Linked DNA regions of Homo sapiens: regions 1 and 2 are each reported to be linked to region 3. The links are microRNA targets in miRTarBase. Many come from high-throughput screens and were not tested one by one. Region 3 holds a microRNA gene; each other region holds the end of a gene's coding sequence.

The links. The annotated mature microRNA hsa-miR-7843-3p reads AUGAAGCCUUCUCUGCCUUACG and lies in region 3 at 1,648-1,669, shown strand. An mRNA with a match to its seed (bases 2 to 7 or 8) in the 3' UTR can be bound and repressed. Matches are read on the target gene's strand: a 7mer-m8 pairs with bases 2 to 8, a 7mer-A1 pairs with bases 2 to 7 and ends in A, and an 8mer does both.
Region 1: the mRNA of PELI3 is a reported target of hsa-miR-7843-3p. Seed matches in the 3' UTR shown: 7mer-m8 at 886-892 and 7mer-m8 at 959-965.
Region 2: the mRNA of DDX19A is a reported target of hsa-miR-7843-3p. The part of its 3' UTR that is shown has no 7-base or 8-base seed match.

The regions. Positions count from the first base shown.
Region 1 is chr11:66,475,948-66,480,077 of GRCh38, forward strand. PELI3 (pellino E3 ubiquitin protein ligase family member 3) reads left to right here. Exons shown (of 8, transcript NM_145065.3): 8 at 1-1,390. The coding sequence ends at 220. DPP3-DT (DPP3 divergent transcript) reads right to left here. Exons shown (of 4, transcript NR_120586.1): 1 at 4,092-4,130. Among named protein-coding and RNA genes, the nearest start is that of DPP3-DT, 2.2 kb to the right of the region's middle. RefSeq lists enhancers at 323-1,143, 1,781-2,374, 3,313-3,880.
Region 2 is chr16:70,371,446-70,375,580 of GRCh38, forward strand. It overlaps DDX19A (DEAD-box helicase 19A), which reads left to right. Exons shown (of 12, transcript NM_018332.5): 11 at 1-118; 12 at 480-1,938. The coding sequence ends at 541. Among named protein-coding and RNA genes, the nearest start is that of DDX19A, 27 kb to the left of the region's middle.
Region 3 is chr14:72,515,219-72,519,378 of GRCh38, forward strand. It overlaps MIR7843 (microRNA 7843), which reads left to right and starts at 1,602; the gene lies at 1,602-1,680. RGS6 (regulator of G protein signaling 6) reads left to right here. Exons shown (of 18, transcript NM_001204424.2): 15 at 3,133-3,319. RefSeq lists enhancers at 1-53, 3,731-3,800.

The DNA.
Region 1 (4,130 bases), not on the chromosome of region 3:
GCTTGGCCAGGAGGCCGGCCTCTGCCTGGACCCTGGGCCGCCTAGCCATGCCTTTGCACCTTGCGGCCACGTCTGCTCTGAGAAGACTGCCCGCTACTGGGCCCAGACACCACTGCCCCACGGCACCCATGCTTTCCATGCCGCCTGCCCCTTTTGCGGGGCCTGGCTTACCGGCGAGCATGGCTGCGTCCGCCTCATTTTCCAGGGCCCGCTGGATTAGGCTCCCTGGGGCCCCCTGCTGCTGTGCCCACCTGCCCACCCAGGTCCCCACCTCCTGCAGCCCAGAGGGAGCTCTGCATGTGGGACACTCCCTGCTGGCACAGCCACACCAGATGGACATGTTGGATGGGCTGTGCCCTTCCCCCCAACTGTGGCCCCCCAAGGAGGTCCCCAAGATCTCCACCCCAGTCATGCTGATGGGGCCTTCAGCACCAGCTCTGTCCTGGGTCGATGGAGGAAAGCCCAGCCCCATGGCCTTGCCCTTCCTGGGGCATCCCACATCGTGCCGCCGACACTGTGTGCCCCTGGGGGAGTGAAGGGGCCAGGGGCCTTTGACCCCCAGCTTAGGCTGGCTATGCCCTGAGCCTGCCAACCCAGTTTCAGACACTCATCCTTCATCCTTCCTGCTGCCGCCCTGGGTTCCTCTATAAACCTCGCTGCTCAGCTGCCCCCACAAGTCCCACATGCCCCGCATGCGTGCAATGCCTCCAGCCCCCAAGTGAGTGGTGGGTGGGTGGCAGGCTGGGCCTAGCACTTGCTGATAGCCACTATGGGCTCGACTCTGTGCTAAGTGGTATCTGGGGACACAGAGGCAATCAGACCTGGTTCCCCCCCTGGTGGAGTTCACAGTCTAGTGGAGGACAGACTGTTAACAAATGGCAACACGGCTTCATGCGTGCCAGGATCAGAGTACAAATCAGGCTGTGGCAGGCCTCACTGGTAATGGAAAAGTGAGGGAGGCTTCACGGAGGAGGTGTCATAGGAGCTCAGCCTCAACGGCTGCTCGGAACCCTCCGAGTCCACAAGATGGGAAGCAAGTCCACAAGATGGGAAGCGTGCTCTATACAGAAGGGAGGGCCTGTGCACAGGCTCAGGTGTCAGTAAGCCAGAAATCCAGGGACAGAGTCAGGATGGCTGGAGCATGGACTGCGGGGGGAACAGAGAAGGGGGTGGAGCAAAAGGTTGGGACCATGTGACCAGGGAAGATGCTGGATGGAGGATTCTGAACCTCATTTGTGGACGGTCAGGAGTCAACAAAGGGAGGAGAGAGGACTCACTGGTCAAGAGTGTCGGCTGTGACACAAGGGCCATCATCCCTGAATGCCCACCATGTGCCCCGCACTGTGCTGATGATGATAATAATAACTACGTCCATTGAGCACTCTCCAGACACCGGGCTCTGCTTCTTGGAGGTTTTGTTATTTAATCCTCATAGTAACCCAAGAAGGGAGGTGTTGCCATTTTTGTCTCTGAGGAGATGAGGGCAGATGCACCAAGTCACACAACTAGAAAGTGGCCAAGCCAGGATTTGAATCCACAGCTGCTCCTCTCCATCACAGTGTTGCTTTCCTTCAACAGAGGTGGGGGTGAACCAAGCAGGGTTTTGGATACTAGATTGGTGGACACCCACCTGCTTCGTGCCCAGCCCTGCGCAGGGCCCCTGCAGTGGGCAAGGCCGGGCCTCTTGCAGCCCATGGTCTGCAGAGGGACCTACCCGTGCTTGTGTTGGAAGCTGGCCCCCACACCTGTGCTGGCCACCTGTACCCCAGGCCAGGATGCAGTGGGCTATTAGCCAGGCTGGAAGTGTTCAGAGGAGTGAGAACCAGGGGCTCTAGAAGGCCCAGGGAGGACCTGGAGCCTGAGCCAAGTCTTGAATGGCAGAGCATCTCCAGAGGCAGAGAGGAGTTGGGAGGGCAGCCCAGGTGAGGGGAACAGCATGGTGTGGCAGGGAACATGCCTGGTGTGGAGGGGGGCAGCAAAAAGGAATGGGGGGTAGGGAAGGTTGCTGGGGCCTGGTGGGCCTTGATTGCCATGGAAGCCAAGCCTGAACTGGATTCCTATTCATCCTGGCCACAGGTGGGCGTGTTGCTGGGGTTGCCCCAGACCATTCCTGCAGGGAGCGAGCCAGGAAGACAGGCAGACGGCTGTTCTGGAGATGAAGAGAAGAAGGCTCTGAGTATAGGCCTGACCTGGGCATCGTCCCCAATAGATGACAGAGCCTAGGGAAGTACAGATTCCAAGGGGAGGGATGGACCTGACCAAGGCCACACAGCTGGTTGCGGCCAGGGAGATCAGACCTGGGTTATTGAGAAGACAGAGGGCACCCGAATGTGATGAGAGAAGGAGGAGGGTGTGATCAGATTCTTGCTTCCAGAGCATGGCACTGCTGCAGTGGGGGTGAAGGGGAGGGTGGGGATGCTGCAGGAGGTGTGGGAGCATTCCAACTTCTCTCCCCTCAACATACACACAACACACAAAGCACTCAAAATCCAACTCTTCCAAGTTCTCTCTTCTGACCCTGTTGGGAACCAGGCAGGGGAACATTCTGATCCCATTTCCAGTGGGGAACCTCAGACCCTAGGAGGAAAGACCAGCAAAGGGCACCACAGTAGATGCTGGGGAGGATTCAGAGGTATTGGTGGAGGAGGTCAGAGCCCTGGTCTTGTCCCAGCTCTGCCTTTGCCAGCTGTTAGAGCCTCAGTTTCCTCAGTGCTAAAGGGGATAACAGTCACTACCTCGCCAGGTGGTTGTGAATATACAGAGAGCACCTGTAACACAGTTGATTCGTAACTGTTGCTCCTCACCGACCCCTTTTGCATTCCCATGGGGAAGAGCCAAGGCTGGGGAGTTATGACTCCAGTGATAGACTGCTCCATGTGAGTGACTGTGTGTGTGTATCTCTATGTTGGGGCCAGGGATATCTGAACTGTGTGGTGTTATAGGAGTCGGCGAACCTCTTAGCCTCAGTTTCCCTATCTGTACAATGGGTAAAGTGATCATACCTCAGGATTTTTGCAAGAATTAAATGAGGTCCTCCATGCCAAACTGCTAGCAAGGGACCTCAGTATATGCTCATCTTATCTGTGATCATAAAAATGTGATCACGTAGCTGGTTGGGGGGTCCTGAGAGCACTGGGGTCTTTTCCTTGCCTGAGCTGCCCCCTGCTGGCAGTGGGCAGCACTACCTCCCTTACCTGTGCACATTTCAACTTCACCTGTCAGCCAACTTTATACCCATTTTAAAGACAATGAAAACGGAGGCACAGGAAAGAAGAGGGGTGACTTTCCTAAGGACACCGACCAACTTGTTGAACTCCCCCATATAACAAGTAATCATCAAAGCTAACAGCTTGTAACACTGTTGTGTCAAGCAGGGCCTTGGGCACCTTTGTGGATGAGAAACTGGTGTCTATGGTAAGCAGAGGCTGTCTGGCCTAGACACGGGCGTAGCAAGGAGACCGTGCGGGATTTCAGTACCCAAACGCCCCTCACCCTGCGCAACTATAGGGAGCGGCACTGCAGTCAACACATCACAACTTACAATATCCCTTGGATTGGATTCAATTATTAGCCTGGTTTTCCGGTTCATAAAGCCAAGACTCCCAGACAACCTCACTCCACCCCCCAGTCTGACCCTGGGCCCTCACCACTACTCCCCATTTGGCCTAGGCCCTTCCGCATGCCCCACCCAGACCGTGGTCCCGTGAGTCCGTCCAGACCTGTAAAAGTGGACCGCGGGCCCGCCTCTGCTCTGGACTCCCTTTCGGGGCCGCAGGAGGCTTTCTCATCCATCAGGCATCTGGCAAGCACCAGGAAACTACCAGCCTGTTTGTGCTAAGGAAACTGAGGCTCGGGAATGTTTAGCGGCTCCTTCCAGGCCCGTGGCGGGTGGGTGGTGGTACAGTGAAGCAGTCGAGGCGTTTCTCCGCGCCCCTACACGGGTGGGACCACCTCAGCCCTGGCCCGATCCCACTCAACCGTAGCCCCGATTCCCGGCACCGAGAGCTTTGCAACTTCCAAGTCTCCACCCCCAGGTCCCGAGTCCCGAGAGGAAGGTGGAGCCACATTACTCCTATTGTGTAGGTTCCCACCTGCAAGAGTGCTGTCGGGTCCTCTGAGGTGAAACCCCA
Region 2 (4,135 bases), not on the chromosome of region 3:
GAGACCTACCTGCACCGGATCGGGCGCACGGGCCGCTTTGGCAAGAGGGGCCTGGCAGTGAACATGGTGGACAGCAAGCACAGCATGAACATCCTGAACAGAATCCAGGAGCATTTTAGTGAGTCCCGGGGAGGGTCCTGTGCCTGGCGCCCTTTGCTAAGTAGGGCGGGGTGGTGAAAGGGGTAGGATCTTCTGTAGCCCCAAGAGAGGCTCTGTCCCTAGCACACTCCCCTCCTTTCTGACCATATGGCAGTTCTCAGGGAGCACACCTGGAGACTTCAGGACCCAGGGACTCCAAGGACAGCTCCCCTGTGACTGGGCTTCGGGGCGTGGGGCTCTGACTGTTGCTGTCAGTGACTAGGGGCCCTGCTGCCCCCTGCTTAGGCACCCGGAGCCTTTGGGCCTGAATGAATGATTGCTGTGGCCTGAGGTGGGGCACATTCCTGGGCAGGGTAGAGACTTGTGTATCTTTCCCCCAGATAAGAAGATAGAAAGATTGGACACAGATGATTTGGACGAGATTGAGAAAATAGCCAACTGAGAAGCTCCACCAGCCACTGATGCCAGCCCTGGCACTGCCCCTGCACAGGAGACAAGTGCATTTAGGGCACAGGCCCCGACATCACCCCAAGGACAACGGCAGAAGTAGAGAGAAACTACCTACCTCACTTCAAATTATGTTTGGACTTGACAAAAATAGGTGCAAATGATGGGGGGCAATAGAAGAAAAAATTTGCATTTTGGAAAATTGGGTCCTTTCCCCACTTTTTTAAAGCCACATTCCCCCATCTTTATAATAATCTGGTCACAGTGGTAGTCGCTGGCCCCAGGACCCCCTCCTGATTTTGGCTAGGCATCGTGGAACCAGCTCCAGCCCCTGAAGAAACGATAGATGTGCAGGTTGTGCGGAAGAGGCTGAGTGGAAAATGGTGTGAGCCCCACCGCTGTGCATCGAATGAGGGAAGTGGCAGCAGAGAGGCCAGAGCTGCCCCCTCTCTGTCTCTTCAATGGACCCTTCACAAGTGTTTCTCCTGCCCTTGGGGCTGTCTTCCTTCTCCTGAAATCCAGAGACTTTCTTGCTCATCCCTTCTCCCTTTCACTTCTGTTCTCTGCTGCAGAAAGCAGACTTGCATATCCCTGATGAGCAGCTCGGCTACTTTTGTAAACTTCAGATTTGGAGAGAAACACGAAAGTCTGAATCCTGACCCCTTGAGAGAGAGTGATCTGGCGAGGGCCGATGAAGGGGCTGGGCCTGGTCTTGCCTTCTCTTCTCTCGGTTGCTCCCTCTGCCTAGGCCCCTGGTACTCAGTCACGGCAGCCAGGAGACCCCAGGTGAGTTTCTGAGCGCATACGTAGTTGGTTCTTACCCCCAGGTGTCACACGGGGCCGAGAGCTGAGCAAGAATTTGGAATGGAAGTTATGACCAAGGGAATTATGCTGTTCATTTATAATAGTGGACATTATGGAGAGCTCTGATTCCTACATAATATGAATAAGGATGGATAGGCCGGGCGTGGTGGCTCATGCCTATAATCCCAGCACGTTGGGAGGCTGAGGCGGGCGGATCGGTTGAGCTCAGGCGTTCGGGACCAGCCTGGCCAACATGATGAAACCCCGTCTCTACCAAAAATAGAAAAAAATATAGCCGGGCCTGGTGGCGCACGCCTGTAGTCCCAGCTACTCGGGAGGCTGAGGTAGGAGGATCGCTTGAGCCTGGGTAGAGGCTGCTGTGAGCTGAAATGGCGCCACTGCACTCCAGCCTGGGTAACAGAGCGAGACCCCGACTCAATAAATAAATAAGGATGGATAAATTGTAGCGTATGCACCATTCATTATGCTAAGACATTTTAAAGTAATTATGAGAAACGCTCTACTAATGATTTGTTTTTATTTGTATTTTTCTGCTTATTAGACAAATATATACTCATTTTAAAAAGGCGTGTGTGTATATAAAGTGAGAGTGCTCTCTATCCCTTCTCTTCTGGGATCCTGATTCCTGGCAGCTTGGTGAATATTCTACCATATTGCCTTTTATTTGCATAAACCCATTTTTCTTTTACAAAAACAGGAACATTCTGTTCACACTACTATGCAACCTGCTTTCACTGATCAGCATGTGTTAGACATGTTGACATGTCCAATACACACACATCTTCCTTGCCCTGGAAACACCATCCACCTTCCTTTCTGCGTGTAGCTGTCCCGGCATTTATCTCCTGGTTCCTCTAGTGACAGGCATGGGGGATTTCTAGTACATGGCTGTTATCCACAGTACCACAATGAACATTTTTTTTTTCTTTTTTTGAGACAGAGTGTCACTCTGGCCCGGAGTACAGAGGCGTGATCTCGGCCCACTGCAACCTCTGCCTCCCAGCTTCAAGCAGTTCTCTTGCCTCAGCCTCCCAAGTAGCTGGGATTACAGGCACATGCCAGCATGCCCAGCTAATCTTTATATTTTCTGTAGAGATGGGGTTTTGCCATGTTGGCCAGGCTGGTCTCGAACTGACCTCAAGTGGTCTGCCTACCTCTGTCGGCCTCCCAAAGTGCTAGGATTATAGGTGGGTGCCATCACGCCTGGCCGAACATTTTTTTTTTTTTTTTTTTGAGACGGAGTCTCACTCTGTCGCCCAGGCTGGAATTCCGTGGCGTGATCTCAGCTCACTGCAACCTCCACCTCCTGGGTTCAAGCGATTCTCCTGCCTCAGCCTCCTGAGTAGCTGGGATTACAGGCACATGCCACCGCACCCAGCTAATTTTCGTATTTTTAGTAGAGACGGGGTTTCACCATGTTGGTCAGACTAGTCTCAAACTCCTGACCTCGTGATCCGCCCACCTCGGTCTCCAAAAGTGCTGGGATTACAGGCGTGAGCTACTGTGCCTGGCCTGAACATCTTTTTAAAAAAGATTTATTGCTTATTTATTTTTGTAGCGATGGGGTCTCACTAAGTTGCCCAGTCCAGTCTCAAACTCCTGGGCTAAATTGATCCTCCTACCTCAACCTCCTAAGTAGTTGGGATTACAGGCATGAGCCCTTGACCCAAACTGAACATCTTTGTTCTCTTTTTTTTTTTTTTGAGACCAGCTCTCACTTTGTCACCCAGGCTGGAATACAGTGGCATGATGATCTCGGTTCACTGCAGCCTCGACCCAGTCTCAAGTGACCCTCCTGCCTCACCCCTCCAAGTAGATGGGACTACAGGCCTGCACCACCACACCCGGCTAATTTTTGTATTTTTTTTTGTAGAGATGGGGTCTCACCATGTTACCGAGGCTGGTTTTGAACTCCTGAGCTTAAGTAATCTGCCCGCCTGGGCCTCCCAAAGTGCTGGGATTACAGGCATGAGCCATCATGCCCAACCTTATTCTTATTTTTGAGCGTTGGTGAAAATCACTTCAGGATATTATTCCTGGAAGTAGAATTGTTGGGTCAAAGAGTAGGGACATTTAAAATTTTAATTCATTGTCATTTACACTTGCCAAAGGTTTTTACCAATTTATGTTACTGTGATACAAAAATTACGTGCTTGCCAACAGTATTATCAATGTTTAAAACTTTGCCAGTCTAAGTGGCAAAAACAGATTATGTCATTGTTTGATTTTGATTTAGTGAGGCTTGGCAAACATTAAGTTTCTTAGAAAATCTTTTCTGTTGGGGAGCTGCCCATTCTTGTCTCACTACATTATTATTATTATTATTGAGATGGAATTTTGCTCTTGTTGCCCGGGCTGGAGTGCAATGGTACGGTTTTGGCTTACTGCAACCTCTGCCTCTCCAGCTCAAGCGATTCTCCTGCGTCAGCCTCCCAAGTGGGATTACAGGCATTTGCCACCACACTGGGCTAATTTTGTATTTTAGTAGAGATGGGGTTTCTCTATGTTGGTCAGTCTGGTCTTGAACTCCCAACCTCAAGCGAACCGCCCACCTTGGCCTCCCAAAGTGCTGGGATTACAGGCATGAGCCACTGTGCTGAGCCCTGGCCTGTATCCTACTCTTTGAAAGGAAGTCATTATGTACATGCAGCCCACACCTCAAGGAAGTTACATGCTCTCCTTAAGGGCAGAGTAGCTACCTACATTAATTATTCAACTCCTCTGCAAGGGAGAATTCTCTCTTCTCCCCCACTGATTAATTTAT
Region 3 (4,160 bases):
TCCCTTCTTGCCCTTTCCCCCTCCTTCCCTCCCTTTCTCTCCCCTCCCCTTCCTCTTCCTCCAGCATGCCTGTTGTTTTCACTTGTACTTAAAAAAATTCTTGGTTTTATGTGACAAAGAAAACCTTTTTATTTTTACATAAAAGTTTATTAAATTTGATTCCGCGGCCTGGTGCAATGGCTCACGCCTGTCATCCCAGCACTTTGGGAGGCCAAGGCGGGCGGATCACTTGAGGCCAGGAGTTCAAGACCAGCCTGGCCAACATGGTGAAACCCCATCTCTGCTAAAAATGCAAAAATTAGCTGAGCATGGTGACATGCCCCTGTAATTCCAGCTACTCAGGAGGCTGAGGCAGGAGAATAGCTTGAACCTGAGAGGCGGAGGTTGCAGTGAGCCGAGATGTAGCCACTGCACTCCAGTTTGGGTGACAGATCATGACCCTGTCTCAAAAAAATTGATTATGAAATTTGTATTTCCATCAGCTCCGGTCATCTCTATATCCAGCTGAGTGATGTACATTTTCATGTGGCACCCAAATCATCCTGCAAAAAGGACCCTGAGCCCTCAGGAACCGCAGGGAGCCTGCAGAGCTCCCAGGGTCCTCAGGGCCTTCCCACAGGGGCTCAGCAGCTCCTCCTCAGTGCTGACAGAGGTGACAGAAAGTGACCTCCCATGTGGCATTGATTGAGGGGGCAGGAAATCACCCAGGTGTCATCCATTTGTGTGAGAAGTTGCAGGGGCCCAGGGGGCGTGGGAAGACGCTGACCCAGAAGGTTGCTTCCAGCCAGGGATTCAGCCCAGACGGCCTCCCTCTGTGAACCTGGTTCTCCTGTCTGCCTAGCATGGGGCTGAGGAAGCCTCACTGACTTCGTCTCTGGACATTTGACCCCTTCTGGGCCTTGGAAAAGCCAACACTGGCTTCTTCCTATAGAGCCAGGTTCCCCGCATCTTTCACCTACTGGTCAGACATGGCCTTCCAGGCAGAGAAAGCCTTGTAGGTACTCTCACCAGCAGATGGCCATTTTCACTTGGCAAGCCTCCCGGCCACTTCCTTCTTTTCACAGCAGACCTGAGAGAGTGGACAGAGAGCCCTACAGAACCTAGGGCAGGCCTGGGAGATGGAGGAGACCCATGCCCCAGCTCAAGAGTCAAGGGCCCACCTGAACAATGAGGTAGGGGAACAGCTCCTTTCAAGCCCTTCCTTCCCCACCCTCTCTGGACTCTGGATAAAGAAACACGACTGCTTTCCTCTCACCCAGAAGCCAGAAGGACCTGAGCACCCAGGACTTGTGGCTGTCAGAGAGCTGTGGAAGGGCAGGGGACACCAGATGGCAGCAGCAAGAGCTGGGCGGCAGCATCTGCCCAGGCCACCTGCGGAGAGAAGGCTGGAATCCGAGGGATCACACTGGGCCAGCATTGAGCCTGTGGCCACCACACTGACCCCTCCTCAGCTCCCCCTCACAGGACCTGAAAGCATTTCTGAGTTAAGTCTGCATAGGAAGTTTTCCAGAGCCATGCCACATATCCCTCCATCCACTCAGTGCCCATTTTACAGATGAAGAGAGAGGCACCCAGAAAGGTACACCAAGGCAAGATATGGCGTAGACAGGATGAGGGCAGAGCCAGCTTCCTGATCTGATGGAAGTCATGAAGCCTTCTCTGCCTTACGCTTGGCTCTGCAGGGTCGCTGAGAGGTTCCTTTAAGGAGATCATCAGAATCCTAAATGGCAAAAAATGGCAAATCAGGGGAAGAGTTGGAGCCCAGCATTTGGGGACACACACACACACACACAGTCGTCTTGCCTTGCAGAAATTGGGTTGCATTACTCCAGTCTGCCACTGAGTGGCACCTTTGGGCCATGCACTTGGCTCCAAAGACATTTCTCTGAACAGCAACAGAAAAACATGTTTAACCCTAAAAAAAAAAAAAAAAGAAACAAGTACATCTTACTTTGGATGAAATTTGATGACAGATTGAATGCACTGTCTGCACTTTCCACCACGTCATGTTTCAGCTTCGCTTGTCCCTCCCTTTCTGTTGACTAGACTACCTGTGATTCCCGCTGCTCTCGGAACCAGCACAGGACCTACTCTCTTACTCACTGATGGGGGAGCTGGCCTGTCCATGCACAGGGCAAAGGATATGACACCCAGACCTGGATCCTGCTGCAAGGCTGCCTTGGGAACCATCCTTAAGACCCGGTAGCTGTTGTCCAAGCTTTGGCTCTGGCTGCTGCTGCTCTCAGCAGAAAAGAGCTCACTGCTCCCATGCGGATGCTGAGGGATTAAACAGAGGCAAATACGGAAGTGAGCAGATTTTTCTCTCTTGCTCTCAGCAGAAGGAGAACCATTCTGCAGAGAAGTTTTCAACATATGCCTCTTCAGCATTGCTCCAGATGCGTCCGTCTTCACTCTGAAACCCATATATTGAGCACCTACTATTTGCCAAGCACCGTGCTGAGCACTGATGTGAATTGGCTCAGTTTCTCCATCTATAATAGGAATGGCTGGTTCATTCTTACACAGATAGTCTTTATGATTCCAGGACACTGCCTGCTTCTGGGATCTCTCCTCCATTTTGATGCCATCACTTGATCCCAACTAGATTTGACAAAGGGTCTCACACTGTCTGCATGGTGGCATGTATGTAGCACTGGGGTTCTCAACCAGGAATGAGTTCATCTCCCAGGGGACATTGGGCAATGTTTGGAAACATTTTTAGTTGTCATAACTTGGGAAGGGGGGTTGCTATTGGCATCTAGTGGGTAGAGGCCAAGGTTGCTGCTAAACATCCTACATTTCACAGAATAGCCTCAACAACAAAGAATTATCCAGCCTGAAGTGGCAATAGTGCTGAGGTTGAGAAACCTTCATGTAGAAGGAGAGAAATCCCGTTCTGATAACGAGAAGCACATTGATCTTTTAATATGCAATTCTTTTCTGTTCTGCACCATAGGAACACCTTTGATGTTTTCACAATCTCCATGGTCTTTGCAGCTCATGTAGTGGCATCAGGGCAGGCTGAGAGATGCAGCAGAATGGGTTTCATGGGACATCAGCTCTGGGGCCATCTCAGGCAACATCCCGATGCTGAGCCCCCTGGAACTGACTGTGTTTCTGCTCCCACTTCAGGTTCTGGCTGGCTGTCCAAGATCTTAAGAAACAACCCCTACAGGATGTGGCCAAGAGGGTAGAAGAAATCTGGCAAGAGTTTCTGGCTCCAGGGGCTCCAAGTGCAATCAACCTGGATTCTCACAGCTATGAGATAACCAGTCAAAATGTCAAAGATGGAGGGAGATATACATTTGAAGACGCCCAGGTTTGCTTATCTACTCAAGTGGTTGTCATAAGGTGTTCATTTGTCCCCTTCATTGCCTGACCTATTAACACAAGTTCAAGGCATTGTGGGTAGTTAAAATTTCAGATTTGGTTATTTTTAAGTTCATCAGTGGAAACCATTTCAGATAGGCGCACAGCAAAATCCCAGGATCGTTTTCCTAGATGGGTTATGTATTACATAGAAACCAAAATGTGCAGTTATATGCTTTATTTGTTCCAGGAAAGCCTCAAAGTGTTTTACAAAATCTGAAGGCTTGTAATAAGTCAGTGATAGAATCTGGAAACCAGAACACAGCATTGGGGAAGTGGGTGTAGTGAGTTAGCAGGGCCATGAGTCAAACCCACATCTGTCTACCTCTGAAGCCCACACTGATAACCACCTCTCTACACTGCTTCCGCAGTGATCTCCAGCTCTGCAGTGAATATTTTTTAAGCACATCTATATTCCAGGCTCTGCGCTATGTGATAAGATACCACAAAGAACAGGCAAAACCCCTGTTCTCACCGAGGTTGAGTGGGAGACAGACAAGTAAATGGGCAACTTCAACAGTGTGAAAAGTGCCCCAAATGGGTGAACCCTAGGTTAAAGCAAGCCTGCAGGAGGGACTCCCAACCCTGTAGGACACAATTAAGATGCTCACAGATGCTAGTGATGCTGGCTAAAGAAACAGGAACCACCCTAACCAGCAGACTAAATTTTGACGGCTGGGAGGTGCCATTTCTAAAAATAAGCATTGGGTTGGTTTCTTACTTCCTGGCCCCTAATTTCTATTTCCTGTCACCATCCCACACCCAGTGACAGGGCTTAAGATTTTGCTTAT